4 linked regions of the Homo sapiens genome follow. The protein of the gene in region 1 interacts with the protein of each later gene in a pairwise test. Each region holds a gene or a part of one and is shown in the gene's direction. Other genes may lie near its edges.

Region 1 (8,028 bases):
TAAGGCTATATCATCATTCATTCATTCATTCATTCATTCGTTTCTCGAATATTTATTGAGCCATTACTGTGAGCCAGGCCGTGAACTGGATACTGAGGACATAGTGTTGAATTATCTCTTGATATCTGTTATCAGTATTGGGAATTTGGGAGACAAAACATCTAGATTGTGAGTTTCTGAGGTTACTTCAACTTAAAAACATTCTGCACTTTTCCTGATGTTTGAAAATTTGGAGGGGTTGGAATCATTTAGCTTGAACTTCCAAATAACCATAATTTTTTCCGGCAGTTTAGATTACAGTGGGTTTTTATGTAACCTAAAGTAGTGAGTTTCTGTTAATTCATGAAATCATAGGACAGGCTTTTGTGAAAGTTACACTTCACACCGAGTACCTGTATAGCTACAGGGGGATATTTCTTTTTGACCAACCAGCATGCAAGTTGAAACTATTAATCCTCTCTAGGGTTATATTCATTTTGAAGCTTGGCGATGTGTTCTCAGATTTCACTAACGCTAACAGGAATATGAAGCCCTGAGTGTCAAAATGGAGATGATTTCTATTGAGCGAAATCTCAGTTTTTATTTTAAGTGTTTAGCACCTTTTCCAGGTATACATGTTAGTACATTATATAAATTGATGAAGTTTTAGAAAGCTTTTTAACTGCTAGTTACTGCTAGTAAGAACCGTTAATATTAATGGAACTTGAATGTATTGTATGTATCACGGTGAAAACTAACTTTGTTTCTTGAAAAATTGAGTCAGTTTAACATATAGTAATAGAATAATTGAAACTTAAAAGAGATACACATGTATGTGAACTTACATAAATATTCTATGTGATGAACTCCTTTTAGGCAGACTTAACTTTGAAAATGGGTTATTTTTAAAAATATGCCATAAGCATCTGTAAAAGTTACTTATTTTGAAGTTTTGACATTTGAAACCACAAACCTAAGATTATGATCTGATTATTTTTGATGCTGTATGTTGTAGTTTTGTTTCTTTTTACCTTATTACCATTATCATATTCACATAGTTTTATCACAAATAAAATACAGCTCTATAAGATTTGGGAATCTATTAGAATTTAGGAAATTATGTGATAAATATAGTATAGATTTCTTTCCCTCGGGTCCCAAAGCTTTTCGCTTGTCAGTCTTGTGGTTCTGTTAGAGGAGTTCAGCGATGTAGCTCTAGATTTTCTGTTGAATCTTTTAAACCTATAATCTCCATCCCATTTTGTCTTCTATAATCCTGTGATTAAGGGAGTGACGAGTTAAAAAGGTTTTCAAGTAAAGGCCAGTTTTGCTTTGTTGAAGTCTAGGAACCTAGTGTCATATTGGCTAGATAAGTAGTTGGGTTTTTTTGCATATCAGTACATGGGTACTTTTGAATGGGTTATTGCTGAGAATCAGATGATTGATTATATAGAACACTTGCATTTTCTTTCCTGCTCCAACCTGCCAATTATAAATAATTTGCTTTACTTTTTTGTAAATAGTGAAAGCTTGGTCAAAAAGATTGTATGGGCCAGGAGTGGTGGCTCAAGCCTGTAATCCCAGCACTTTGGGAGGCCTAGGCAGGTGGATTGCTTGAGCTCAGGAGTTCAAGACCAGCCTGGACAACATGGTGAAACCCTGTCTCTACAAAAAATAGAAAAATTAGCTGGGCATGGTTCAGGAGGCTGAGTTGGGAGGATTGCTTGAGCCTGGGAGGTGGAGGCTGCGGTAAGCCTAGATAGCGTCATTGCATTCCAGCCTGGGTGACAGAGTGAGATACTTTCTCAAAAAAAAGATGGCATGATAGTTCGATTAAACTGTAAACTTCCTCTGTTTCCATATTTAAAGACTGCATTCCTTAGAAGAATTAAAGTAATTGACTTCAGATGATTTAGTAATGAGATGTTAAAAACGAAGGTGTACCAGATGGCCCTGTAGGCCTTTAATTTTTTGAAATCACTAGCTGGAGGAGGACAGGGTTATGTGTTTAAGGATTCTAGCTCATGAATAGATATGTGACAGATGTCTCCTTTACAATGGCACATTTACATATTAGAGGAGAGAGATAAAAGAGAGAAACCAGAACGGAGGTTTGAAAATCTTATGAGAAATAGACTATGCTTTAGCCTTTTGGCCTCAGGGCCTCTTTACTCTCTTAACAATTATTGAGGACCCCAAGAGATTTAGGTTTATGTAGATTATATCTACTAATATTTGCTCTTTTAGAAATTAAATGACAATTTCAAATATATTTATTAATTTAAACTGTGTTGTAAATAGAATTTTTTATGAAGAATAAATATGTCCTAAAACCAAAGAAACTAGACCAGTGGCATTGTTTTATATTTTTGCAAATCACCTTGATTTCTGGCTTACTTGGAGAAGACAGCTGGATTTTTTGTCTGCCTTCAGTCTGTTATGATGTTTTGGTTGAGATATGTGAAGAGAATCCAGCTTCATGTAGATATATGGTTGGAAAAGGAAAGAGTGAGTATTCTTCTTTGGTATTACATCAAAATTCAACAAGTGGCAGTTTTTTGTTTTTTGTTTTTTAAGTTACTGACAATGTGAAAGCATATTGTATTCCAAAAATGTCTCTAGGACCTACAGGAAGTCTATGGAAGATACATTTAAAGAAGAGACTAACGGTTGGGAGACGTGATAGCTGTCTCCAGGTATTTAAGAAACTTGGATTTCAGTAAATAGGATTTAAAAACCTGTTAATTTTAATAAATAGGAGGGAGAATAGATCCATTCTCCTGCTTTAGAAGGCAGACCAACGGGTGAAAATTAGGAAGACATTGAGGTCAGTCTAATTTTTTACCAGAATGTAAGAACTGTATGACAACTAGACTTGGAACAGTGGAACAGTGGAGCAACAATGGAACTCGCAACAGCTAACAACAATGGAAAGAAGTAGTTAGTTTTGAGAATTTAAAGTGGACTACAGGGACATATTTTTTGGGGAGGTGGAGATAAATTCTGTAGATTCTTACGATGAGTGCTATTGGATTAGTGACTTAAGGCTTCATCCAATTTAAAAATGTAAACATTCTGTGATTTTTTAAAAATCCCTAAATATAGTTAAACTATACTTATATATATTCATTAACGTTTTTGAATGTTCTTGCAAGTCAGTAGTATGAAACTACTGTTGTTGTTGACTTTATTACTATTTTGCATTTTTATTGTGCTTTTCCTCTGAGGATTTTTCTGTCTTTTCTTGTGTCAGCAAGATCAGTCTTCATGAAATCTTGCTAAATTCCCTGTGAAATATAATAAGCTTAAGACATTTTAGAGAACCAAATGCTGTTTATGATACAGTTTAGTAGAGTTGTAATATATTTCAGCACAGAATTTTAGAATACTATGGGGGCTGATTTTCAATTTTGTAAGAGAAATTATGAGCATAGTTTATATAGTCTTTTATTTGTAATTGTTTACGTGATTTCAGAAGTAATATGCTTAAGTTATTCTAATGTTTTTAAAGCTAGAGAGTCTGAAAAGAGGGAAGAAGAAAGAAAAGTGTTTAAATTGATCTCTTTTGAATTTAAAATGCATATTAAGTATAACTAGAACATAAAATGAAGAATTTAAATTCTCATCTTATTCCTAGAATTATACCTATAATATGTATCATTACTTATAACAATTCATATTTTAATTTTGCATGGCACATAATCTCTTCTGTGAGTTGGATTTTTAGGTGGTGGGAATTTAAGCATAAATTCTCATAACTTTCTTGGGGTCAATTTAATATTAATAAGTGTAGTAAGTAATAATACCCAGCTTGAGACCTCATGTACTTGTTGCATTTGGATTTAAAGCTCATTTCCTATAGAAGAGCTGTAGAAATCAGTCATGTAGTTTCATAAACTCCTTCATGCTTGTTAATAATTTTCAAGAATCTTAAAATAAATTACAGGAATATTGTTATGAAGTAGTAGAAGCAGTATGGTATAGGGGAGAAAGTGATTGTAGTTGGGATCTGAGGATAGTCTTTACTTTGCTATTAACTAGCTGTGTGACCTTGGGCAAGTTGCTTATCTCTGCTTCAGTTCCATAAACTAAGAATTACAGAGCTGAACCGGATCTTGGAAGCAATCTAGTACAAACCTCTCATTTTACAGATGAGGAAGCAGATAATTTGCACAGGCTTTCACTGTAAGACAGTTGGGCCCAAAATTCAGTTTTCTGACTCTCAGGTTGGTTTTTTTTTTCCATTATACTTTACAGCCTCTTTTCATCTGTAAAATGAGAGCATTGGATTAGAGGCTCTCAAAGGTCTCTTCCAGCTCAAAAATATTGTCATTCCTGTGACATTAGTCGTAATATAATTTATTAGGGGAAAGTTTGTAGCTTTTATTTATTGGTGAAAGAAATGTTTCTTGAAGAGGCAGTATAACCTTTGCAAGGTTATATTTTGTTTTTTTAAGAGAATATCATCAGGCGAGGTGCTATGTCTCAGGCCTGTAATCCCAGCTTTGGGAGACCAAGGCAAGAGGATTGCTTGAGTCCAGGAGTTTGAGACTAGCCTGATCCTGTCTCAAAAAAAAAAAAAAGTTAGCTGGGTATGGTGGCATATGTCGGTAGTCCTAGCTACTGGGGAGGCTGAGGTGGGAGGATCCCACCTTGATCCCAGCAGTTCAAGACTGCAGTTGATGCAGTGAGCTATGATCATGCCACTGCACTCCAGCCTGGGCAACACAGTGACACCCTGTCTCAAAAAAGAAAAAAGAAAACATCTTCATTAATACCAAAGGGTATTTAAGTTTATGAGCATGGTAAGTAGTGTGATAGGTAGTCTTGTTTTTTGTAAAACACTTATTAATATATTAATAATATAAATTGCGTAAATAACAGTGTGATACCCGGAAGTGAAGTAAGTAGGTGATTGTTCCTCAGAAAATATTGCTGGAGTTTATTTTATCTGGGACCCCTGTGTCTGCCCCTAGTTAAGTGCCTGTGTTGTTTAGTGTCTCACAGGATTGTCTGTTTCCATAGCATCTGCATCATGCTACTTTTATTATAGTTTTATTTATATTGTCTACTAGACAGAAAGGTCTTGAATTCAGAGACTATATTTTGTTCATTTTCGTATTTTCAGTGCACAGGAGGACATCCTCTACAGAGTTGGCACTCAACTAAAAGTTTTGTCAAAGGACTGTTTCACATACATCATCTCTCTATATATCATGGTATGCACATATTTCAGACCCAGGAAGATGCTTATTTTAGTAATTCTTAAGTGAACTATATTTTAGAGGGTGATATGGATAACAGTAACAGTAATAGCTAAAGTTTATTGTGTTCGCACATGTTAATTCTTATATCTCATAACTCTGAGTTACATACAGTTGTTATTCCCATCTTCAGATGAGAAAACTGAAGCACAGAGAAGTAAAGTGACTTACCAGTGTGACCTAGAGTAGTACATGATGGGGATTTGAACCAAGTTGGTGTATTTTAATCACTAGGATATATTGCCTAAAATATGAAAATTTGGTTTTTAGTATTTTAGTAGTTTTTCCTAAGCAGATTTTAACTTACTAATCAGACTTCCAGGCTTATTCATTTTACTTCTAAACTTTTGTTAACTTTTTTTTGCATGAGTTTTTATACACGTGTGAAGATAAGATTTAAAAAAATACAAAAACCCCAACCAAACAACCCAATTTAGAAAGCTGTACCAGCTGTGCAAATCCTACACTTCATTTTTTTAAGATAAGTTTTGTCCATTCATGGAAAATGTTAGAGATACATCAATGAAAAATTTTATTTCCATGTTAGATAATCTAATTTGTAATTCCATTTATCTTGATATTTTGGCCTCATAAACCCACTGGAGCCATAACAAGTAAATACTAGAATTTGAACAAAAAACTTCCCACTGTCAGTATCGGAGCAGTCTATTTATTGTGGAGGCTTTATAACCTGATGGACAAGGCTTTAAACTAAATTATAATGCTTTAGTGGCAGATCTTTGACTCTGTTAATAGTATTCAGTATGGGCAAGGGGAAGAGGATGTGCAGTCTAGCTAATCTGTAAAAAAGTATTTTAAAAAAATACTTAGTTTTAATTCTTTTATTGCTAACAACAACAACAACAACAACAATAACAAAACCTTTGGTAGCATGTATTATATAGCAAACCTAATTGAGAGGCAGGATTTGAATGGATTGATAGGAATTTATCAGTCATGGAGTGGAAAGATATGCAGAGCAGAGCAGATCCAGGTGGTAGGTTGTCAAACTTGAATTAAATTTTTCCAATGTGGCTTCATCATTAGGTCTGAAATTTAATGAATTTCAAGAAGGCAATTTAACCTGTATTTAAATAAAAGTGATTATATTCTACATAGATTCATTAGCCAAATATAAGTATTTTGGGGGGATGACTTAAAATATTTTTTCCTCTTCATCTATGTGGATTGTTAAGAATTGGTTATACTCATAAATTTGTGCTTTTCCTTGAAAACTAATTAGCTGGAGTAAATAAACTACTAGGTTTAAATTCTTGCTGTTAATATGATAAGTTGTGTGACTTCATGATTCCCCACTGGACACTTAGGTAAGTGCTTCCTATCTGAGGATGAATGTAGTTCCTCTGGTGAAGGTCAGAGGGGTTTGTGTGAGGCTAATCATACTCATCCTGTCTCCTAAGACCAGAGACATGTTTTACTTTTTTCCTTTTTTGATACTGTATATTTGCCTCATAAAAAATATAAAATTTCCCTTTTCCTTGCCGATTTCTTTTAAACATCTGTGTAAATATGTAGTTTAGTTCAACTTTGTATACTACTCTGTTACTTATTTCATTTACTTAAAGATACTTATTTCATTTACTTAAAGATACACATGGCTGGGCGCGGTGGCTCACGCCTGTAATCCCAGCACTTTGGGAGGCTGAGGCGGGCGGATCACGAGGTCAGGAGATCGAGACCATCCTGGCTAACACGGTGAAACCCTGTCTCTACTAAAAATACAAAAAAATTAGCTGGGCGTGGTGGTGGGCGCCTGTAGTCCCAGCTACTCGGGAGGCTGAGGCGGGAGAATGGTGTGAACCTGGGAGGCAGAGCTTGCAGTGAGCTGAGATGGCGCCACTGCACTCCAGCCTGGGCGACAGAGCAAGACTCCGTCTCAAAAAAAAAAAAAAAAAAAAAAGATACACATATTTATTAATGCTGGACACTATTCCCGGCATTTGTAAATAGTAATTCATTTGCTTCTCCTAACAATCACATGAAGTCCTGTTATTATCCCGACTTTATAGATGAGGAAATTGAGGCATAGAGAAGTTAAGTAATGTATCCAAGGGCCAGGCACAGTGGCTCATGCCTGTAATCCCGGCATTTAGGGAGGCTGAGGTGGGCAGATGGCTTGAGCGCAGGAGTTCGAGACCAGCCTGGACAACATGGTGAAACCCTGTCTCTACAAAAATATACAAAAATTAGCCGGGCATTGTGGTGCACGCCTGTAGTTGCAGCTAGTTGGGAGGCTGAGGTGGATCGCCTGAGCCCAGGAGGTTGAGGCTGCAGTGAGCCGTGATTACGCCACTACACTCCAGCCAGGGCAACAGAGTGAGGCCTTGTCTAAAAAAAAAAAAGGAATGTACCCAGGCACACATAGAGAATATTTAGCAGAGCCAGGATTCAGACTGGGCTGAGTACATGCTCTTAACAGTTACACTATTCTGTCAATGTTATTTCCTTGAATGGATGCACTATAATTGGTTAACTACTCTTCTTTAGGTAGGATGTTAGTCATGAATCCTTTGGTTACACGTAATAACAACACGACTTTGTTAAGTTAAAAAATGAGTGTATTGGTTCACATACTGGGTATTGTATGTGGAGGGTGATGGAATGGCTTTGGAAACAGCTAGATCCAAGGTTGCAAGTAATGTCATTGGGTTTCTTTGTCTCCTTTCTGGGTTTTTCTAGCCTCTTGCTTCTGGAGCCCCAGACATATACCTTTAGCTTAGCAACCACACTTGAAAGACAGCTTCTCTTTCCTGATGTCCACATG
Region 2 (8,028 bases), on another chromosome or scaffold:
TTTCTACTCAAGCTGTCTTGTCTCTTGTCTCTGTGTGTTTTTTCGAGTATGTCAACAGAGAAGACTTCAAGTATGGTGTGGTATAATAGAGAATATAGCTGATCTTTATCCCTAGTTGCTGACACAGCTTCAAAAAATCTTGGAATTTCCTGTGTGACAGGAGTATCTTTGTTATGCTAATGAAGTGACTTATGGTGGGCCCCTAGATAGCTTCAGGATGGGGACTGGTCACCAGAAGGACCAACCATGTGATTAAAGGGTTGGAACTTTGGGCCAGCTCAACCTTCAGGGAAGGTAGTGGGGCTAGGTATTAAGTTCAATCACAACCAATGGTTTAATCAATCTTGCCTATGTAATAAAACCCCAGTGAAAACTTTGAACTTCAGGGATAAGTGGAGCTTCTTGGTTGGTGAACATATTGTTCTCTAGGGAGAGTGGTGTACCCTGACTCCATAAGGAGAGGGTATGGAAGCTTTGTGTCCAGAATGCTTTCAGACCTTGTCCTGTGTATATCCTTAAATGAAACTGTAATAATAAGAATAGCACTTTTCTTGAGTTCTACGAGTTGTTTCAGTTAATTATGAAACCTCATAATGTCATAGGAACTCCTGAATTTATAAGTGGTCAGTCAGAAGCATGGGTGGCTTCCTGAGAATTGGGGCTGGTATCTGATCTAAAGTGGGGGCAGTATTGTTGGTGATTGTGCCCTTAAACCTGTGGAGTCCAATGCTAACTCCAAGTAGTTGGTTTCAAATATTTGATATCAGAACAATAGTGTAATTTTCCCTAGTTTTAGCAGCCACACCTAGATTAATATACATAAAGCTTACCTTTGCTGTGTATTCTACATCAACAAGTTAAAATGAAGGATTCAGACCCAACAGTGTATTATGGGTGAAAAAAGCAGTCTGTTTTTGTGGCATGTACCTGTAATTTAGATAATTTTTAAAATTATCTATGTATCTATTTATCTATATCTATCTATGTGTCTATCTATCTAATCTATCTATCCATCTATCCTGTCATCATTTTTTTTCTTATCACAGCTCCCTTAGCCTAGAATTCCTGTTGTGGGTATTGCATTTATATTTAGAAAACTTCAAATTGTGGCCTGATTAAATACTTCTAAGTCCCAAATGTACTCCAAAGCAGATACTTAAACAGTTTATGCCTGTAGAATTTTTTAATCTCAGCCGAAGAGCAGGGTGACTGGTGTGTGTGTGTGTGTGTGTGTGTGTGTGTGTGTGTATCCAAGCAAAATGATGATTGCCTTTGTTCTGACTTGTAGCGGGTAGAATCCTTCCTCAATTATTTTTCTGGGGTGTAGTTGAAATAAAAACTTCATCATTCACTCAGTCCTCTTGTTCCTTCTCCCTTTTTTGATAAATATTATGGGCTACTTTATATAATAGAGGCTACTTCAGATGTCACTTGGCCTAAAATGTTGTTGTGTGGGGATAGTATCAGAGTGAATTTTTCATCTGTCTAGTCTGGACTTTTAGCAGCCACTAATTCTCAACTCTGCCCCCAATTTCAAAAGAGCAACCTTCAATGGGATCTCATCTATAAAATACCACCAGATTTTCTATCAAGGCTTTCACAACCTTGCACCCTTTAATACAAGTCTGCCTTTCTATCTCCATCTCTCATAACATTCTTCCAAGTCAAGGCCAGGACTAGAATGAAATGAAGAAAGAAGCTCTTGTTCTCAAGTGCCTCACACTATTCCAGGCCTTGCCCCACTTTGCCTGCAGTCAAGCCCCACTGGAAAATCTGTTGTTTTCCCAACTGTATTGTGTGCTTTACTACTTTTATGCCTTTCCCACATGCTGTCCCTTCAATCTTCAATGTTCTTACCCTTTTTCTGTCTATGGGAAACATCATTTGGGCTCAGTTCAAATGCCAGGGCCTTTTTGAAGTCTGATACCTCCTCGCCCTTATCCCTTGCCCCTTGGTAGGAAGTAATTCCTCCATTCTTTGTACTTACACAATATTTTATTTGCCACTTGGCCACTTGTTTCTTTTTTTTTTTTTTTTTGAGACGGAGTCTCACTTCGTCACCCAGGCTGGAGTGCAGTGGCACGATCTCAGCTCACTGCAACTTCTGTCTCCCAAGTTCAAGCGATCCTCCTGCCTCAGCCCCGCTAGTAGCTGGGATTACAGGCACACACCACTGATTTTTGCACCATTAATTTATGCCCGGCTAATTTTTGTATTTTTAGTGGAGACAGGGTTTTGCCATGTTGGCCAGGCTGCTCTTGAACTCCTGACCTCAGGTGATCCACCCGCCTCGGCCACCCAAAGTGCTGGGATTACAGGCGTGAGCCACTGCGCCCATCCCACTTGTTTCTTTATACCATGCATCAGAGTCTTTTTATTTTTTTATTTTTATTTTTTAATGAATAACATAGAACTAGTGTTGAGGGACAGGAAGCATAGAGAAAGAAGCTTGGACTCTGGAAGTGTGATTCAAACCCCAGTCTGTCTGACTGCAAAGCCTGAATGTTTACTACTTAAAATAGTAATTTGTGTTAATATTAAGATTTATTGGATTTATTGGGTGATTTCTATGTGCCAGGGTACTCTACTAAGGGCTCTAAATGTATTCACTTAGTTAATCCTCAAAACAAACTTATGAGGTAGGTGCTGCTATTGTTTCCATTCTACATATGAGGAAGCTGAGGCACACATTGGTTAAGTAGCTTAGCCAACCTCACTGAGTTGGTTAGCAGAGGAGGTGACATTCCCACCTTTGTGGTTTGAATCTGGAGCTGATGTGCATTACTTCTATGCTATGTCTATATTCCTCCAGTGCTAGTTATCAATAAAAGCATCCATGATCATTGTAACTGTTTTTACAATCAGATCTTCTGTTCCTCAAAGCTTGTAGCAAAGTATTTATCATAAAGAAATTAAACCTGAATATTGTTAGACCTCCTGTCCCTTATCCTTTTTTCCCTGTTTATCAGCCTATTCCACCCTTTCCTTCCTTCCCAACCCAATGCCCATCACAGTACTTATTTTTACTACTCTTCTACCTCATCCTCTAGTGCCTGGCTCCACTGTCCTGGAGAAACCCCAACTCTGGATAAATCTCAAGTATCTACGACTTTCTATACCTTTGTTGTTTAGTGCACCTGGGAAAATTAATCATATTGTTCTAACTGTCGACACTGTAAATGTGTCTTTCTCAATATCAGCACAGTCCCCTGAACTGAAAGCAGGTAACCTTTGATATCTTTATAATCTGGATATTTCACAAGGGTGCACCTTCACACAATGATCCTCTGAATTGAAACTAGGTTTATCTATTATCTTAAGTATTTAATGTACCTCTGGACCTCCTAGATAAGTCAGAGTTTGGCTTCTGCCTAAAGCTTTACTTTTTAATCTGGAGCAGAAGCCAAACAGTTGTCAGACCTCTAGCAATCATTAGGACACGTGTTGAGAATTTCTGGCTTTTCTTTCCTGGGAAACATGAGTTCTGCTACTGCAGATGTAGGTGCTCACTGATGCTCACTGATGGACACAAGTCAGGAATTCTTACTCACTGAAGAGCTGTTTTGTGCCTGAGCACATCTAGGATTGTTCCATTTTCATATAACAAGGAATTCAACTAAAACTAACTTAATAAGGAAATTAATTATCCAATGATTGTAAGTACTGACGTAGGGCAGCCTTGATGGTTGTTTAATTCAGCGAAGGACTCAGCTTTTTTCCGTCTCTTTCTTCTGCCATTCACAATATCAACTTCCGTCCTAAGGCTGATAGCTTGATGGCTACAACAATTCCAGGAGGTAAGCAACTTCCTGAGGAAGAAGAAAAGACAATCTTTTCTGATGACTTTGTCTTATGAATGAGGACACTTTCCTCAGAAGTCCATCTGTAACCTTCCCCTAATGTCACATTGAGTGGAATTTGATCAATGCCTCTTCCTAAACAAGAGAGTACCAAGGGGATAGATTATCCGTAGACCAAAGAGACTCACTCTTGGAAATGGAATTAGCCTCTCTGTGACATGTGACTAAAAGGAGGAGAAAGTCAGTAACCTGCAGTGGCAACTATGCAAAAATGGCATCCTTTTAGTAAAGGGTTATGGTAAGCAACACAGAATATACAAAGCACTGAGGCTACAGCACAAAGAGCACAGTGACACTGACTTAGCAATTATGACCTTTAAAAACCATGTAGTTCTCATCTATTCTTTCTTGCTTTCTCCAGCCCACTCCATAATAGGAATAGATCAGAAATTTTAAAAGAACTAGAAAGATCTGATATACACATGTTGTGCAGGATATCAAATAGTTTTCTCAGTATACACAATAATCCTGTAAAGTAGTTAATGCCAGCTCCCTTTTAAGGATGAAGAAACTGGGTTATAAAGACGTTAAGTACCTTTGCTAAAGTTACACAAATAGTGACAAAGTCTGTATTCAGACTTTGGACTGTCTGGCTCTGAAATCTGGGTACTCCCAACTCTTCTGTACAAACTCCCTTTAGAATGTACTCCCAGGGCTCAGAAACTAGTTACTCTAGTCTAAGCAAGCACTTAACAATCATTAGGCAGTTAATGTAAACTATAGATTCTAATAGTATCATGCACTGCCTCTTGATGGTGGTGGTGGTGGTAGTGACATAGACAACTTTTCTCTCCTAGCATTAAGTTACAGTTCCTCAGACTTCATTACCAATAATATATATATTTTTCAATTTTTAAAGATTTTTTGTAGAAACAAGGTATAACTGCATTGCCCAGGCCAGTCTTGAATTCCTGCACTCAAGTGACCCTCCCACCTTGGCCTCCCAAAGTGCTGGAATCACAGGCATGAGCCATTGTGCATGGCCATTACCAGGAATTTTGATTCAGGAGGTCAAAAGTCTAATTTGCATTGCACATTACAAATTTTTGGGCTGAGATGTCAGGTTCAGGGAGCCCCATAAATTTCCTGTACCTGGGAGTGAAAAGAGCTAATATTTATGGAGCAGCTGGGTTTTCCAGGGCAACCTAATTCCCAGATGTGATGTTCAGCAGAAAAGAAGCAGACAAAAGCAATGTGCACTGCTTTTTTTTTTTTTTTTTTTTTTTTTTAAATAGAGAGGGGGTCTTGCTATGTTGCCTAGGCTGCTCTTGAGCTCCTGGACTTAAGCGATCCTCCCACCTTGGACTCCCAAAGTGCTGAGATTAAAGGTGTGAGCCACCACACCCAGCCCATTTTAAATTTTTTATTTTTTATTTTTCACTGCTCTTTAGCTTCCCTGTTAAAACCCATAGCCAGACTTCCAGTTTCAGTTCCAACATGTAAGAACTTGTAAGTCATTGCTCCTGTACTTACAACCAGAAAAAAATCTGAACAAACAGAATCAACAACATTTCTTAGATTCTTCAAAGAACTGAGGCATAGGACAGTTGACTACCCCAAATTCTGAAGGCAAATCCAGAGAGTCACAGCCTATTTCTTCTTTCATAGAACAGAAACTGCTAGAGACATAAATAGGTAAGAGCACTTAAATGTAATTTTGATGAATTGCTGGAGACTGAGTGTGGAATAATATGAGAGTGAGAAACCCCTGAGGATCTGCAGTCAGGGAGGTCCCCACACTTTTGTGGGCATTACTTCCAAGAAACCCACCATATTCTTGCAGTGAAGGGCCTCATGGCCCCTGCAGTGGGAAGGGAACTGTACTTTTGTGAAATACACCCAGAGCCTTCTTCATTTTTTAAAAAAAAAGCCTATTCTGTGGTGGAAAAGACTTTATCAGAGCCTTATCTCAGCTGAGGGAAAGGCGTTTCTCCTATTTCAGCCCCCTTTAGGTTTCTAGTCTCATGTAAGGGAGAGAAAGGCGCTAAAATAAAACTCTTATGAAAATCAAAGCCCAGGGACACAGGCCCACAAAAGACTGAAATTTAATCATAATATTATAGAACACTTCCTCTCCTCTGCACTTCACCACCATGCTAACAAGGCTTTATTATAATAATAGTGGATAACAGTGAATAACAGTTAAAAGAGCTGCAAAATGTAAACTCTCCCTGAGAAGAATATTTAGGGAAATGCTAGAAATCAAAAATACTGTAACAGAGCCCAGGCACAGTGGCTCACGCCTGTAATCCCAACACTTTGGGAGGCTGAGGTGGGTAGATCACCTGAGGTCAGGAGTTCAAGATCAGCCTGGCCAACATGGAGAAACCCCATCTCTACTAAAAGTACAAAAATTAGCTGGGCGTGGTGGCGGGTGCCTGTAATCCCAGCTACTCAGGAGGCTGAGGCAGGAGAATCGCTTGAACCCGGGAGGTGGAGGTTGCAGTGAGCCGAAATTGTGCCACTGCACTCCAGCAAATGAAGAATGCCTTTGATGGGATTATCAGTAGACTGGACACAGTTGAGGAAAGACTCAGCAAGCTTGAGTAGCAGTCCCCAATCTTTTTTGGCACCAGGGGCAGATTTCGTGGAAGACAATTTTTCCATAGACTGGGGGGCGAATGGCATGGTTTCAGGACAATTGAAGTGCATTACATGTATTATGTACTTTATTTCTATTATTATTACATTGTAATAGATAATGAAATAATTATACAATTCACCATAATGTAGAATCACTGGGAGCCCGGAGATTGTTTTTGTAAAGCTAGATGGTCCCATCTTGGGGTGATGGGAGGCAGTGACAGATCATCAGGCATTAGATTCTCATAAGGAGCATGCAACCTAGATCCTTCACATGTGCAGTTCACAATACGGTTTGTGCTCTTATGAGAATCTAATGCCACTGCTGATCTTCCAGAAGGCGGAGCTCAGGCGGCAATGAAAGTGATGGGGAGTGGCTGTATATACAGATGAAGATTTACTGGCTAGCCCGCCACTCACCTCCTGCTGTGTGACCCAGTTCCTAACAGGCCATGGACGGGTCCAGGTCCGTGGCCTAGGGGCTGGGGACTCCTGAGCTTGAAGATAGGTCAATAGTGTAAACTAAAAAGTATGTAAGACATGTCTCAATTGATTTAGAAGTTTATTTTGCCAAGGTGAAGACATTCCCAGAAGAAAAGAGCATGGAATCACAGAAACAGTCTGTGGTCTGTGCCTTTATCCAAAGATAATTTTGAGGGCTTCAATATTTAAATGGAAACAGCAGGCTAGAGGGGAAGAGGGAGGGTACAGTAATCCACATGATGCAAGGGAAAAGGAGCAGAAACAGGAATAGTCAATTCTGTATTCCTCTGGCTCACAGTAAATCAGCACTTTACATAAGGTAAGGAAAATGTGTAATATCTACCTGTGGAGATATTTAACCTTTTATCTGTAGCTATCTGCTTAGGAACAAAAAAAAAAAGAAAGGTATTTTATTGCATGACTCAGCTTTCAGCTTAATATTTTCCTTTTGGCATAGTGAATCAGGGTCCTGGGTTTTTATTTTCTTTTCACAATAGAAACTTCCAAATTGAAATGAAAAAAAGAACTGAACATTGAAGCACTGTGGGATGATTTTGAAAGGTATAACATATGCATAGTTGGAATACTAGAAAGAAAACAGTGAATTTGGAGCAGAAGAAATATTTCAAATAATAACAGCTGAGAATTTTCCAAAATCAATGACAAACATCCAACCACAGATCCAGGAATTTTAGAAAATACTAAGCAGGATAAATACCAAAAAAGTCTACACCTAAGTGTTACCACTGGAAGGTATCCAAGTTACCAACAGTGAATCCATACAGGTCTGCAGCAAACTCAATTCTTGCCTGCTCAGAAGAAAGAATTCGACCAAGGGGTACAAAGCAGAAAAAGAGACCGAGGCAAATTTCAGAGCAGGAGTGGAAGTTTATTTAAAAAGGCTTCAGGGGCCGGGCCCAGTGGCTCACGCCTGTAATCCCAGCACTTTGGGAGGCCGAGGCAGGCAGATCACAAGGTCAGGGGTTTGAGACCAGCCTGACCAACATGGTGAAACCCTGTCTCTACTAAAATAAAAAAATAAAAAAACCCAGCTGGGTGTGGTGGCACATGCCTGCAATCCTAGCTACTCAGGAGGCTGAGG
Region 3 (6,062 bases), on another chromosome or scaffold:
GGCAAAGTGGGTTTCCCACTGGCCCTCCTGGCTTTCTTGATGAAAGAATTCTGGGGAAGGAGGTTTGTGAGGCAAAACACAACTTGCATGGTCAGGTAGTGCCTGGGAAGGGGCAAGAAGCAACGTGTGCTTCTTCATCTACCCAGGGCTTATTGGAGATCTACCGCGCACCAGGCTGGGGCACCCCGGCCTGGTGTTAGTTGTGTCCTGATGATTCTCTGTCTGAACTTCGCCTTCTTGTCCCAGACACACAGTCCAGAGAACTTGAGGCATGTGAAAAGAGAAGGCCTGTCAGTTTCAGAAGATGGGTGGGTGGGGCAGACTGCACCTTGTTGCTTGCAGCTGCCTAAGAATCCCAGCCTGTCAGAACCCTGAGAGCCATAGAGATCGTATGATGTGGTCTAACCCTCTTGTTGTACAAGTGAAGAAACTGAGGCCGGTCCAGAGGTGAGGGACAAACCCGAGGTCACGTGGTAGTCCCAGGACTGGAAGCTGCTCTTTCCACTGCACTATAGTTGCTTCTCTGTTTCTTCATCCATTTATTCACTCATTCATGGACTTGCTACCTCCCTCAGGACCATGTGGCAGGGAGAGCATGGACTCTTTTAGGGCAAGTGGTCCTGGATTCCAGTCTCAGGTTGCCCTCTGTGTGACCTTTGGCAAGTGGTTTTACCACTCTGACCCTCTCTGGTTTTTAAATCTATACAGTGAGGGCAGGCACGGTGGCTCATGCCTATAATCCCAGAACTTTGGGAGGCCAAGGTGGGCGGATCACCTGAGGTCAGGAGTTCAAGACCAGCCTGGCCAACATGGTGAAACTCCGTCTGTACTAAAAATACAAAAAAATTAGCCAGGCATGGTGGCGGGTGCCTGTAATCCCAGCCACTCAGGAGATTGAGGCAGGAGAGAATCACTTGAACCTGGGAGGCAGAGGTTGAAATGAGCTGAGATCGTGCCACTGCACTCCAGCCTGGGTGACAGAGCAAGACTCTGTCTCAAAAAATAATAATAATAATAATAATAGTCAATAAATAAATCTATAAAATGGGAATAATAATAGTCGAATCCACCTACTTGGCTTTTCATGGGAATAACCTGTGGCAGTGCATGCTGGAGGGTGGCATGGAGCCTGGCACATAGTAAAAGGTACATACATGTCAGCCATTCCTATGAATACATATTACTGATTCTTAATCTCTGCCAGTCTCTGCCATGCACCGGGGGACATGAAGATAGCATAGAAAGGGTCCCTGCTCCCATCAAACTCTCAGGAGTGGACTTTTTGAAATACCTGGGAGAGAATTCTAGTGAAGCCCTGACAACATGAAGAACAAACCCCACACAACCCCAGAGCAGCCGGGCTTTTAATGAAGTTGTTGAATTTTCATCTACCAGATTCCCAGTGCCTCAGCTCTGGAAAGCAGAGAAGGTAGTTGTGGACGATGGTGTCATTGTTTACAAGCCCACTGTTAGGGGCAACAGCCTGAGAAATAGCAAACAGCCGGCAACTAACCGGGTCCAGCCCTGCCCGAGGTCTTGGAGCCCCGGATGGATGAGCAAATGAGCACCCGGCAAAGCACCCTCAAACCCTCGACCCAGGCTCCCCGCTCCAGCTACTGCTCTGAGAGTCAGACGCACAGAGCACAGGCTGCTCAGGGGTCACACGCACACAGGCCAGGACAGTGGCAAGGCAGCGGCACCAAGGCTCCGGCCTTCTCCACCCCAATCTGCATGACTTTGGGGAAGTCACTTCCTCTCTCTGAGGGCCTCTGGGGGCTTCCCCATCCATTTTCTTTAGGCCACCAGGACACAGTCTCTCCCCTACAGATTTCTGCTGGCCGGGAAAGGGAAGGACCCCCCCACCCCAGGGAAAGCATGTCAAGGGTGGTCTGAGAAGCACTGTACTTATTTGCCAGCCCCCAGAAGGGGTGATGGGCTTTCTTTGGGCGGAGAGCCAGGGAAAATGTGCCTTCTTCCTGGGAAGATCCAGCACTGAGGAGGGAGCTTGGTTTCTCCACTTCACAGGGTCTGGATCTCCCACTTTACTCCAAGATTCTTGTGGATTTGCTTTTAATTGAGCCCAAATTGTGTTACGCCACCAGAAACGGGGGTTTGAGGCCACAGGCCCCTGCAGCCGGGGTGGTCCCAAGGGGTGCGTGGGGCCAGGAGTCAGCCCTCCCTCTCCTGCCAGAGACACTGGGAAGACAGGCAGATGCAGGACATCTGGAAATGCGCAACTGGACACCCCAGAATCTGCAGAGTGCCCTGAGGCCCTTTGTTTTATGGGGAGGCTTCTGGCGGGTGTTTTCCTCACGCAAAGGGAAGTGAAGGGGCCCTGCCTTTCAGGACTTTTTCCTTGGAAGGTTCAACCCCCCCAGAGTGGCCTGGATTTCCTAAGCCCCTCCCAAAGTACTTCGTGGACCTCTGGGTACAGCGGGTCCCTGTGTTTGTGCTGTTAGATGGGTGGTGGTACTTAGGTGCTGGCTGTGTAGATGAATTTCATTTTTCTTTTCTTTTTTTTTTTTTTTTTTTTTTGAGATGGAGTCTTGCTCTGTGGCCCAGGCTGGAGTGCAGTGGTGGGATCTTGGCTCACTGTATCCTCCGCCTCCCGGGTTCAAGCAGTTCTTCTGTCTCAGCCTCCCGAGTAGCTGAGGTTACAGGAGCGCACCATCACACCCAGCTAATTTTTTATATTTTTAGTAGAGATGGGGTTTCACCATGTTGGACAGGCTGGTCTCGAACTGCTGACCTCAAGTGATCCACCTGCCTCGGCCTCCCAAAGTGCTGGGATTACGGGCTTGAGCCACTGTGCCCGTCCTTAGATGAATTTCTGTGTGTCTTCCTGAATGCTTACAGGCGTGTGTGCAAAGATATGGGAGTGGACGCGTGTGTGTCTGTGCCCAAGGAAAAATGAAAGTAAACCCATGTTCTCTCACTGACATTCTTTTCAGACAGAGCTCAGCCCCAGCTCTGCGCCCCGCCGCACGTCCCTCATAAGTCGATACGGGATGCAGCAGGTCGGGAGAGAGACTCTGCGGGTTTCAACTTCCCTGGCCTCACTTTAATTTGGCTGCCGTTCCCACGCTGCCTACCTCCACCCACCTCCACCCTGAGACCTGACACCCAGTGGCCCAGGGTACCTGGTGGCTCCCCCAACCGATGATGGGGATAGGTTCCGTGTCTTTCACTTCCTCTTAGTAACTCATTATTATTGCCTGATTCTCATGTGTTCTTTATCGCATTCCCAGACTTACTGACCACAAAACATTTAAAACATTTTACCAACAAGAACTTGTGGGGTTTATTGTCTGCTGAAAGGCAACTGCCAAAAAAGGAAAAAGAAAAAAAAAAAAGGAATGTCTCAAAGAACCATTAGGAAAAGGATCAAGATTTGTCTGGTGTGTGTGTTTGGTGTGTCTGATAGAAATGCAACATGAGGCACACATTTAATTTTAAGTTTTAAATGTCCTAGTAGCCTCCTTGAAGAAATGAAGAGAGACAAGTAAAAGTAAAATTAATTTTAATAATGTATTTTGCTTAACTCAGTATAGCCAAACTATTAATCATTTCGACATGTAATCAATATAAAAATTATTGAGATATTCTACCTGCTTTTTTTTTCATATTCAGCCTTCAGATAGGTTGTGTGTTTTCACCTGCAGACTGGTTGAATTTGGGCTAATGCCATTTTAAGTGCTCAGCAGCCATACGTGGCTCGTGGCTGTGATATTCGGGAGTACAGCTCAGCTCTGGAACCACCTATCAGAAAGAGAAGCCCAGCCGTAGCCCATTAGATAGAGTGAAATTTTTGTTTTATTTTATTAAGAGCAAAATATTGGCCAGGTGCAGTGGCTCACATCTGTAATCCCAACGCTTTAGGAGGCTGAGGCAGGAGGGATCACTTGAAGCCTGGAGTTTGAGACCAGCCTGGTCAACATTGCAAGACCCCGTCTCTACAAAAAATAACTTAAAAAGTTAGCGGGGCCGGTGGTGCTCACCTATCTATAGCCCCAGCTACCCAGGAGGCTGAGGCGGGAGGATCGCTTGATCCCAGGAGTTAGAAGCTGCAGTGAGTCGAGATTGTGTCACTGCACTTCAGCCTGGGGGACCAAGCCAGACCCTGTCTGCAAACAAAAACAAAAACAAAAAAACCAAAAAAGCAAAATATTGCCAACCTGACTTTTTGGATCCTCTTGGCAAAACACAGATCAGCGTCCCCAGAGGCAGCAGAGCTCTGAGTGAAGCAGTCGGGGGGATGCTCTGCCTGCCTTCCGCTCACCAGCCCTTCCCTGTCGTCCCCCGCAGGTCTGGTTCCAGAACGCCCGAGCCAAGTTCAGGCGCAACCTCTTACGGCAGGAAAACACGGGCGTGGACAAGTCGACAGACGCGGCGCTGCAGACAGGGACGCCATCGGGCCCGGCCTCGGAGCTCTCCAACGCCTCGCTCAGCCCCTCCAGCACGCCCACCACCCTGACAGACTTGACTAGCCCCACCCTGCCAACTGTGACGTCCGTCTTAACTTCTGTGCCTGGCAACCTGGAGGGCCATGAGCCTCACAGCCCCTCACAAACGACTCTTACCAACCTTTTCTAATGACTCGCAACCCCTCACCCCACAATTTCTTTAAAAAAGAAATTATCTTTAGTTGAATTCCAAGTGTATTTTAAAATAGAGGCTTTGAGCAACTAACTAACCACATTTTAGGATCTCGCCTGGAAACAGAGGTAAAAAAAAGAAGTGTGCGCCCGGCTAATGCAGCGGTGTGGACCGAGGAACAACTTGGAAGATCTACCTGCAACACAACATTTGTGTCACTGTACAGTTTTGTGGACTGAGCGAGGAAAAACAACAAATAATTTAAGTTGGCTAGAGCTTCTGTATTTTCAAAGACTGCCACGTGCCTTAGGAATACTGTTTTATCTCCATACTTTGGATGACTTGTTCATTTTTCTCTCCCTCTTTTTCTCTGTATATTTATGACCAGAGCAAAAATGTAAAAAACAAAAAAAACAACAAAAAAAGTTTGTTACTTTGAATAGTCCTAAAAAGAAAAAAAGAAAAAAAAAAAAGGAAAAATCAAACCCCCTCCAACGGTCGCTTTGTTGTTTTAGAATTTTAAGGTGGAAGTCTGTTCGAATATCAGAATTTGTAAAATCTAACCAGTAATAAAACCACTTATTGAAACTACTTGGGGCTGCTGCCATTTGGTTGGGTGTGAAATTGACAGGACCTAAGAGTTTTACTGAGGCCCAGAGATCAATTCTAGGTCTTCACATATTCATCAGATATTCCTGGGGCTCCTGTCTTGTGCCAGGCTTTGGACGGATTACAGAGATGCCGAGACAAAGATCCAATTCCTGCTCTCAAGGAATCAGAATGGTGACACGGGACAGACAAAAGATATCTTAACAGGGTGTGATATGTGCTCAAGTGGAGGATATGCAACATCCCATTCATTCATTCATTCATTATTCATTCATTCATTCTTTCAAATATTTAATGAGCACACCCTGCCAGATGCTTGTGATGCAGAGGTCAGAGGCCCTTTTCTGCTCCTGGCTGGGCTGGAAAGAAGGCATGTCAGGCGATGAGGGAGGCCTCCTGAAAAACCTGCAGCTTTTCCCTACGAGGAGTGAACGCAGTTAACAAAGGGCAGCTTAAGCTCCAGTTTTCCTAATGACACAAAATTTCAAGATCGCTAGAGAGGGCAAAAGCAAATGAATTCTGTTCCTTTCCTAAAGTTTCAGGGAACCTCAGAAACCCAGAGAAAAGACACACCCAGAGAGGAGGGAGGGTTGGAGCCAGGCAGAATGAAGTTGGAATTCCTACTGTTGAGCAGGGTGAGCTGAAGGAAGTCATTTCACTTCATTGGGCGTCAGTTTCCTCAGCTATGAGCTGAAGATAATGAATGGCCCTTGCATGGCAGTTGTAGTGGGGGCAAAAGGTAAGATGTGTTGAAGAGCCCAGCAGAAGGCCTGACACAGAGTAGGGCTCGATGCATTGTAGTGAATGACAGACAGGTGATGTGAGGACTCTGTGGGTGGAGAGCAGGAATGTGTGTA
Region 4 (8,061 bases), on another chromosome or scaffold:
TTTTTAAAAGAGGATGTCTAAAAAAAACAAGTATTTGAGTCAATGATACTATGTTTACTGGCATTTTGGAACTCTTCCTACTTTGTGGTAATTAAGGACCAAAGCCACCTTTTCTTTTTTTTTTTTTTTTTGAGACAGAGTCTCACTCTGTCGCCCAGGCTGGAGTCCAATGGCGCGATCTCGGCCCACCGCAACCTCTGCCTCCCGAGTTCAAGCGATTCTCCTGCCTCCGCCTTCCAAGTAGCTGGGATTACAGGCACGCGCCACCACGCCCGGCTGTTTTTTGTATTTTTAGTTGAGACGGGGTTTTGCCATGTTGGCCAGGCTGGTCTCAAACTCCTGACCTCAAGTGATCCGCCCGCCTCGGCCTCCCAAAGTGCTGGGATTACAGGCGTGCAGCCGCGCCCAGACTCGCCTTTTTATTTTCAGTGCTTAAGATATGGCGGGGCGCGGTGGCTCACGCCTGTAATCCCAGCACTTTGGGAGCCCGAGGCGGGCGGATCGCGAGGTCAGGAGATGGAGACCATCCTGGCTAACACGGTGAAACCCCGTTTCTACTAAAAAATACAAAAAATTAGCCAGGCGTGGTGGCGGGCGCCTGCAGTCCCAGCTACTAGGGAGGCTGAGGCAGGAGAATGGCGTGAACCCGGGAGGCGGAGCTTGCGGTGAGCCCAGATCGCGTCACTGCACTCCAGCCTGGGCGACAGAGCGACACTCCGTCTCAAAAAAAAAAAAACAAACAAAAAAAGATATGAAGGAGGGCTGGGCATGATGGCTCACGCCTGTAATCCCAGCACTTTGGGAGGCCAAGGCGGGCGGGTCACTTGAGGTCAGGAAATCGAGACCATCCTGGCTAAAGGTGAAACCCCGTCTCTACTAAAAATACAAAAAATTAGGGGGCGTGGTGGCACATGCCTGTAAGCCCAGCTACTCGGGAAGCTGAAGCAGGAGAATCGCTTGAACCCGGGAGGCGGAGGTTGCGGTGAGCCAATATCTCGCCATTGCACTCCAGCCTGGGCAACAAGAGCGAAACTCTGTCTCAAAAAAAAAAATTAAAAAAAAAAAAAAAAAATTAGCCGGGCGTGGTGGCTGGCGCCTGTAATCCCAGCTATTTGGGAAGCTGAGGCACGAGAATCGCTTAAAAACCCAGGAGGCATAGGTTGCAGTGAGCTGAGATTGCGCCACTGCACTCCAGCCTGGACTACAGAGCGAGACTCTGTCTCAAATAAAAAATAAAAATAAGATATGAAGGAAGGGAGGAAATGAGGGAGGGAGGGAAATTGTTTATAAGCAAATAGGTTTGGGTTTTCTTGTTTTTGATGATAACCAGATCTATCATCTACCTCCAACTTTTCCCTTTTTAAACAAAAGTTATTAATTAACCTCATGATCTGCCTTACTCCCTAAATTTAATTTTAACTGACTCACCTTTTCCTACAGTAAAATAACCACTAAAACGGCAATGATTATCCACTATAGGAGATACTACAAGGTAGAATTATTATAAATTAGGTGTGTCAAGTACTAGTGTACTTGTTAAAATACTAGACTCTTGGACATGGGGAAAGAGGTATTTTCATGCACTGTTATAAATTGGGGAACTCTATATAGATATTAAATAAACCCAGCTTTTGACTCAGCGCTTCTGGAATACACAGCAGAGAGACACAGACAAGGGTTCCCTCCCTCCCCCACAGCCACACCTCCTGCCCCCTCTCTCCATTCTGTTAGGAAACAGTGTTACATATGAATCAATGCTGGTTTGTTTTCTGCAGATGCAGATTAATGACTTTGGAAGACTCACTGCCTCCGGGTAAACTAAAGGACTCATTAATTCAGTTCATTTTACACAATTAAAAAACTTTTTATAAAAAAAGAAAGCGAAAAGAAAAAGCTGGGCTTAGGGGTGCTGGCCTTTAGTCCCAGCTACTCGGGAGGCTACAGCTGGAGGATCATGTGAGACCAGGAGTTTCACCTGGGACCAGCCTGGGCAATATAGGGAGACCTCTTAAAAAAAAAAAAAGGAAAAGGAAAAATAAAAGAAAACCCAACCAGAATACCCCTAAATCTCTCAAATTCATTCCTCTCCAACTCTTTTTTTTTTTTTTTTTTTGTCTTTTTCTTGAAACAAGGTCTCACTATGTCACCCAGACTGGAGTACAGCGGCATGATCACACTGCAACCTCCACCTCTTGGACTCAAGCGATCCTCCCACCTCAGCCTCTCGAGTAGCTGGCACCCCTGCGCCACCACGCCTGGTAATTTTTTGTATTTTTGGTAGAAATGGGGTTTCACTATATTGCCCAGGCTGGTCTTGAACTCATGAGCTCAAGCGATTCTCCTGCCTCCCAAAGTGCTGGGATTACTGGCATGAGCCACCACGCCCTGCTCTTCTGATCCCAACATGTGCTGTGCCAGCCACTGTTTTCTCCAGACACTGTTTTCTCCAGACATGCCCACAACCCTCTAAGTAAAGGCTATTATTTTCATGACTCTCATTTCATGGATGAGAAAACAAAGAGACCTAACGTTATTGCCCAGGTCACACAGCTAGTGAAGGGGAGGTTGGGTTTAAATCCTGTCTGGCTAGCTGCTAAAGCCTTACATTTAAAAATGAATCAATCTGGCCTGGATTTGGTGTCTGTGTTTTTATGTTTTATTTTTATTTTATGTTTTATTTTGAGATGGAGTCTCACACTGTCACCCAGGCTGGAGTGCAATGGCACGATCTTGACTCACTGCAACCTCTGCCTCTCCAGCTCAAGCAATTCTCCTGCCTCAACCTCCTTGGTAGCTGGGATTACAGGCACGCACCATGCCCGGCTAATTTTTGCATTTTTAGTAGAGAAGGGGTTCTGCCATTGTTGGCCAGGCTGGTCTCAAAACTCCTGAACTCAAGTGACCTGCCCACCTCAGCCCCCCAAAGTGCTGAGATTACAGGCGTGAGCCACCATGCCCAGCCCAGAACTCCAGTTATTCTGAATGTTACGTTCAATTACACTGACAAAAGAAAGATGATTCAGTTATACACTTTATACACAAACCTTAATTAGAAAGTCCTACTGGTGGTTACCAAAGGCTGTGGTAAAGAATTGTTAAATCAAAGCCCTAATATCTCCCAGATGACCTCAACTCACCTGGTTTCCTCTTTGCCGCCTTGGGGGTTGCCCAGTCCACAACCTGCACTTCCTTCTCTATTCCTGGGCTCCGTTTACTTACTTTTTCTGTCCGTGGATTTCTAGCCTGTGAGCAGATTACTAACACCATTTGGATAAAGACAGTCTCTTATTTATCATTTTAGGACAAGCAATGAGATGTAGGAAAAAAAAACAACAAAGTAAACCAAAGAACAAAAGAGACTTTGGACCCTGACAAGGGAGGGTTTCAGTCGCACAGCCACTGCTTCCTTCACTTCACATCTCTTGACAATCTGACAGGGAGCACTGATCTGAGGAAAGATTTTTCAAATTATTTTAAGGAGAAAAACTTGAACTTCTTTGGGAGTCAGTAGGTTAGGGGTTCACTTACTGTGCTATTGAAAAAGTTACCAATAAAAATTTATACCAACTTTAGTCATATATAAAATGGGGAACAATAATGACTGAATTTAAAACTCACAATTTGAGATATAAAAAAATACTCGGGCGGGGAGTGGTGGCTCACGCCTGTAATCCCAACACTTTGGGAGGACAAGGCTGGAGAATTACTTGAGGGCAGGAGTTCGAGACCAGCCAGGTCAAAATAGCCAGACCCCCCCACTTGCCCTCTACAAAATAAATAACAAATACTCTATAGACTTTAAAAGCTACTATTATTAGTTCGTTGGCAGATGAAAAGATGCTCGGTATTAGTACAGAGAAACCTGGAGTTTTAGTTGGTTGAGTAACTTACTTAGGAAATGGAATGTATTTGGTACGAGAAAATAGCTTTCTTCAAGCCGCCAGTCTGGTCTCTGAAGTCTACTGTTGCCACAAGTTCCATTATTAAATCCCTTCACACATCCTGCTCAAGTCTCTGGCCACTGTTTTTTTGTTTTTTGTTTTTTGTTTTTTTTCCCCGTAGAATCGTTCTGAAGGAGTGCTCAATCTCCCAATGTCTCCGGAACCATACTTTGGATAATTACATTTAAAGTGAACAGAAAAGGGCCAGGAATAGTATTAGTAATTCAACCCAGACAAAAGTCACCCCATGAATAAGAAAGAATGCAATTTTAGCATTTACAAATTGTGGGGGAGGGAACAGAAGGGGAGAAGAAAAGAAGAGGTGAGGTGGAGAGAAAAAGGGTCTTCGGGCGGCAGGAAGTGGGAGGAGACTTTGCAAATAGCAATCTTGGGGCAGGGGCCATTTTGGAAGCATGTTGCGAGGCTCCGCTTCTTCTACAAGTATGGAGAAGGCAAAAGGCAAGGAGGTCAGTACAGTTTTAGTGGATTTGTTTTCTGTCTGTCTTTGTGTTTCTGTCTTCCCTGGGCACTCCTGATTTTTCCTTTAAGGAGAAAAGAATGTGCCTTCGAATTTTCTCCTCTTGACTTTTTTTTTTTTTATTTTAAGAGTAAGGCCCAAGAATATGATTGCAGCCTGGTATATTGGAGTGAGCAGACAAGTAAGAAATGAGGTTTTCTAGGTTTAGTTGAGGAGGTTGAGTGTGTCAAAAGATGGGGAAAAAAAAAAAAGAGGCCGGGCGCGGTGGCTCACGCCTGTAATCCCAGCACTTTGGGCAGCCGAGGCGGGCGGATCACCTGAGGTCGGGAGTTCGAGACCAGCCTGACCAAAATGGAGAAACCCCGTCTCTACTAAAAGTACAAAATTAGCCAGGTGTGGTGGCGCACACCTGTAATCCCAGCTACTCGGGAGGCTGAGGCAGGAGAATCGCTTGAACCCGGGAGTCGGGGGTTGCGGTGAGCCGAGATCGCCCCATTGCACCCCCAGCTTGGGCAACCAGAGCGAAACTCCACCTCAAAAGAAAAAGTTAAAAAATTAGGTTTTCAGGTTTGTGTTTTGGAACAGGGTTTCACTTTTGTCTCCCTGGCTGGAGTGCAGTGGCACCATCACTATTCACTGTAACCGCCCAGGCTCAAACGATCCTCCCACCTCGGCTTACCAAAGTGCTACTGGGACTGCAGGCGCCCGCCGCTGCTCCCGGCCCGGGTTTTCTGTTTTGAAGAGGTGCTTAGTCCTGTCAGAAAGAACTAACTGAATATGGGGGCTAGAGGGAAATGGTAACAGGAGAAAAGGGTGTTAAAGGAAAGATTTTAGGAAGAGGTAATTGAGCTGAGTTTGGAAAAGAATGAAACCCCTTAATTTCCTTTAGACGGACACAGATCCTAAACCGAGGGTGCTGAGAATGAATTCGTCCCCTTTTCCCAGCGTCCTTAGGACCTAGGAGTAATCAGAAGCCAGACATTGGGAACAATGCAGACAGAAACTGAAGGAAGAGAGGATTTAAGACGTTGCACAGGCACTGAACGGCCATATCCGAGCGCTCTCAGGTCCTCTTGACTTGAACTGGGTCATTTTTAACTGTCTCGGTTTTAAGTCTTTTGTGAGGTCCAAAGTGAGTACTTTTTGTAAGGTTTATGCAAATATAAATTTCAAATCAAAATGTAGAACTGCTATAGAGATGTAAAAATGCCATACAAATGTTAATTTGTCCAGTAATCCACCCTGAAAGTGAAGAAAAGGATTTAGATTTAGGAGAAATTTTATTATATTAATTTTTTTTTTTTAATGAGTTTGACTCTGTCGCCCAGAGTGGTGTGCAGTAGCCGATCTCGGCTCACTGCAGCCTCTGCTTCCCGGGTTCAAGCGATTCTCCTGACTCAGCCTCTCGATTAGCTGGGATTGCAGGCACGCACCACCACGCCCAGGTAGTTTTTGTATTTTTGGTAGTGACTGAGTTTCGATATGTTAGCCAGGCTGGTCTCGAACTCCTGACCTCAATCGGTCAGCCCACCTCGGCCTCCCAAAGTGCCGGGATTACAGGCGTGAGCCACGGAGCCTAGCCTTTATATTTAAATTTTAATTTATATCTAATGTACCCCTAATCTGTGTCTTTATGTTACCTCTGATTCTCAGCTTCTGTGTCTGAGAAGTAATTGTTGCCAGATTGCTATGAGAATTAAATGAATGAAAAAAGGAAGGCCAAGGCCAGGCACAGTGGCACACGCCTGTAATCCCAGCACTTTGGGAGGCTGAGGTGGGCGGATCACTTGAGGCCAGGAGTTTGAGACCAGCCTGGCCAACATGGTGAAACCCCCATCTCTACTAAAAATAGAAAAATTCAGCCGGGTGTGGTGGCAGGCGCCTGTAATTCCAGCTAGTGGGGAGGCTGAGGCAGAGAATTGCTTAAACCGGGGAGATGGAAGTTGCAGTGAGCCGAGATTGGACCACTGCACTACAGCCGGGGTGACAGAGCGAGACTCCTCTCAGAGAAAAAGAAAATAGGGAACCCTTGGGCGCAGTGGCTCGCGCCTTTAATCCCAACTCTTTGGGGAGCCAAGGCGGGAAGATTGCTTGAGGCTAGAAGATTGAGATCAGTGGGGGGAGACATAGGGAGACCTCACCTCTACAAAAAATTATCCTGTAGTCCCACCTGCTCAGGAGGCTGAGGCAAAAGATCACTTGAACCCGGGAGGTAGAGCTTGGAGTGAGCTATGGTCCTGTCACTGCACTCCAGCCTGTGTGACAGGGCAAGACCTTTTCTTTAATAAATAAATATTTTTTAAAAAAATGAAAGTGAGGAGCATATCAAAGCCAATGCCTAGTATGAGACAGAGGCTCAATATATGTTACTGTCTCTGGATTAAACAACTTTTCCCCACTCCCACTTTGCTTCCTTTAATTCAATGAACCAATATTTATTGAGTGCCTATGATGAAAAAGAAATCACACAAACCAATGTAATTGCAATTAACAAGTGGTAGAAATGAGGTAGTATTTAGTAGATTGGTCTGGAAGGACCAGGTTAAATAGCACTTGAGGTGAGACTTTTAAAAGAAGAGTAAGATTTTTAAGGTGTAAGATTTTAAAGTGTAAATAGAAGTAGGGTGGAGGTTGGGGCTGAGGAATGTAACAACTTTGGAAAGGAAAGGAATTATGTGGCTGGAGCTTGGTCAGGGAGAGCAGTGTGAAATAGGAGATAAGAGGCTGGTAGGTAATGTTAAAGACAATTACTTTTATGTTAAGAGCAATAAACCACTGAAACTTTTCATAGTGTCACTCTGCCAACAGTGTTAGAAAATTATTTGGAAGGCGTCAAGAATGAAGGACTGGGGGAAAAAATTCTGCCAGGTGAGAGATGATGGAATATAGTAAGTGAGTTAAGGGCCTCTTTTTTTTTTTTGAGACAGTCTCATTCTGTCACCCAGGCTGGAGTGCAGTGGTGCAGCCTCTACCTACCTCCCTGGCTCAAGCAATCCTCCTATCTCAGTCTCGAGTAGCTGGACTACACGCACACACCACCATGCTCAGCTAATTTTGTTTCCTTATGTAGAGGCAAGGTTTCACTATGTTGTTGCTCAGGCTGGTATCCAGTTACTGGACTCAAGCAATCCTCTTGCCTAGGCCTCCTATAGCACTCAGACTACAGGCGTGAGCCTACCTAAGCGCTTTTTCCCCTCAAGGCAGAGCTGTTTTCTTCTACTCTTGTTTGTATCTGTCTTTTCATGTGCTTTCAAACTGGCTTCCTCCCTTTTTTTCCATCATTGTTTCCCAGTCTTGTAAATGAAACTGAGTATTAAGATGATACCCAGAGGAGAATCCACACTGCCAGTGGAGTCCAGTAACTGCGTTGGTGCCTTAGAAGTGAGTTATCTTGAGGCAGGTAGTGTATGTGTGGTTTGGACACTAGAGGAATGACTGACCAGCTCCTCTGTTCCCCAGTGGACCTCCACAGAGAAGTCGAGGGAAGAGGATCAGCAGGCTTCTAATCAACCAAATTCAATTGCTTTGCCAGGAACATCAGCAAAGAGAACCAAAGAAAAAATGTCTATCAAAGGCAGTAAAGGTAAGAGGTCTTCAAATTCTCAAATCCCACCTTCTCGGGTCTTAGAAGCCAGAGGAATT

What was found.
Region 2: the proteins of TLK1 (region 1) and GPRASP3 interact in binary tests that used the Homo sapiens proteins (3 or more experiments, as listed by UniProt).
Region 3: the proteins of TLK1 (region 1) and LHX2 interact in binary tests that used the Homo sapiens proteins (3 or more experiments, as listed by UniProt).
Region 4: the proteins of TLK1 (region 1) and DPPA4 interact in binary tests that used the Homo sapiens proteins (3 or more experiments, as listed by UniProt).

Annotation. Positions count from the first base shown.
Region 1 is NC_000002.12:171,150,607-171,158,634, reverse strand, and holds part of TLK1 (serine/threonine-protein kinase tousled-like 1), read left to right. Parts: intron 1-8,028. UniProt on the Homo sapiens protein: Rapidly and transiently inhibited by phosphorylation following the generation of DNA double-stranded breaks during S-phase. This is cell cycle checkpoint and ATM-pathway dependent and appears to regulate processes involved in chromatin assembly.
Region 2 is NC_000023.11:102,723,507-102,731,534, forward strand, and holds part of GPRASP3 (G protein-coupled receptor associated sorting protein 3), read left to right. Parts: exon of another isoform or gene 1-1,355; intron 1,356-8,028. UniProt on the Homo sapiens protein: Survival and differentiation promoting protein that plays a role in the regulation of neurosynaptogenesis. Induces phosphatase PP2A activity which results in APP dephosphorylation and inhibits BACE1-mediated processing of APP.
Region 3 is NC_000009.12:124,028,115-124,034,176, forward strand, and holds the end of LHX2 (LIM/homeobox protein Lhx2), read left to right. Parts: intron 1-4,305; coding exon 4,306-4,593; 3' UTR 4,594-5,187; downstream 5,188-6,062. UniProt on the Homo sapiens protein: Acts as a transcriptional activator. Stimulates the promoter of the alpha-glycoprotein gene. Transcriptional regulatory protein involved in the control of cell differentiation in developing lymphoid and neural cell types.
Region 4 is NC_000003.12:109,333,811-109,341,871, reverse strand, and holds the start of DPPA4 (developmental pluripotency-associated protein 4), read left to right. Parts: upstream 1-4,325; 5' UTR 4,326-4,354; coding exon 4,355-4,408; intron 4,409-5,164; exon of another isoform or gene 5,165-5,551; intron 5,552-7,878; coding exon 7,879-8,002; intron 8,003-8,061. UniProt on the Homo sapiens protein: May be involved in the maintenance of active epigenetic status of target genes. May inhibit differentiation of embryonic cells into a primitive ectoderm lineage.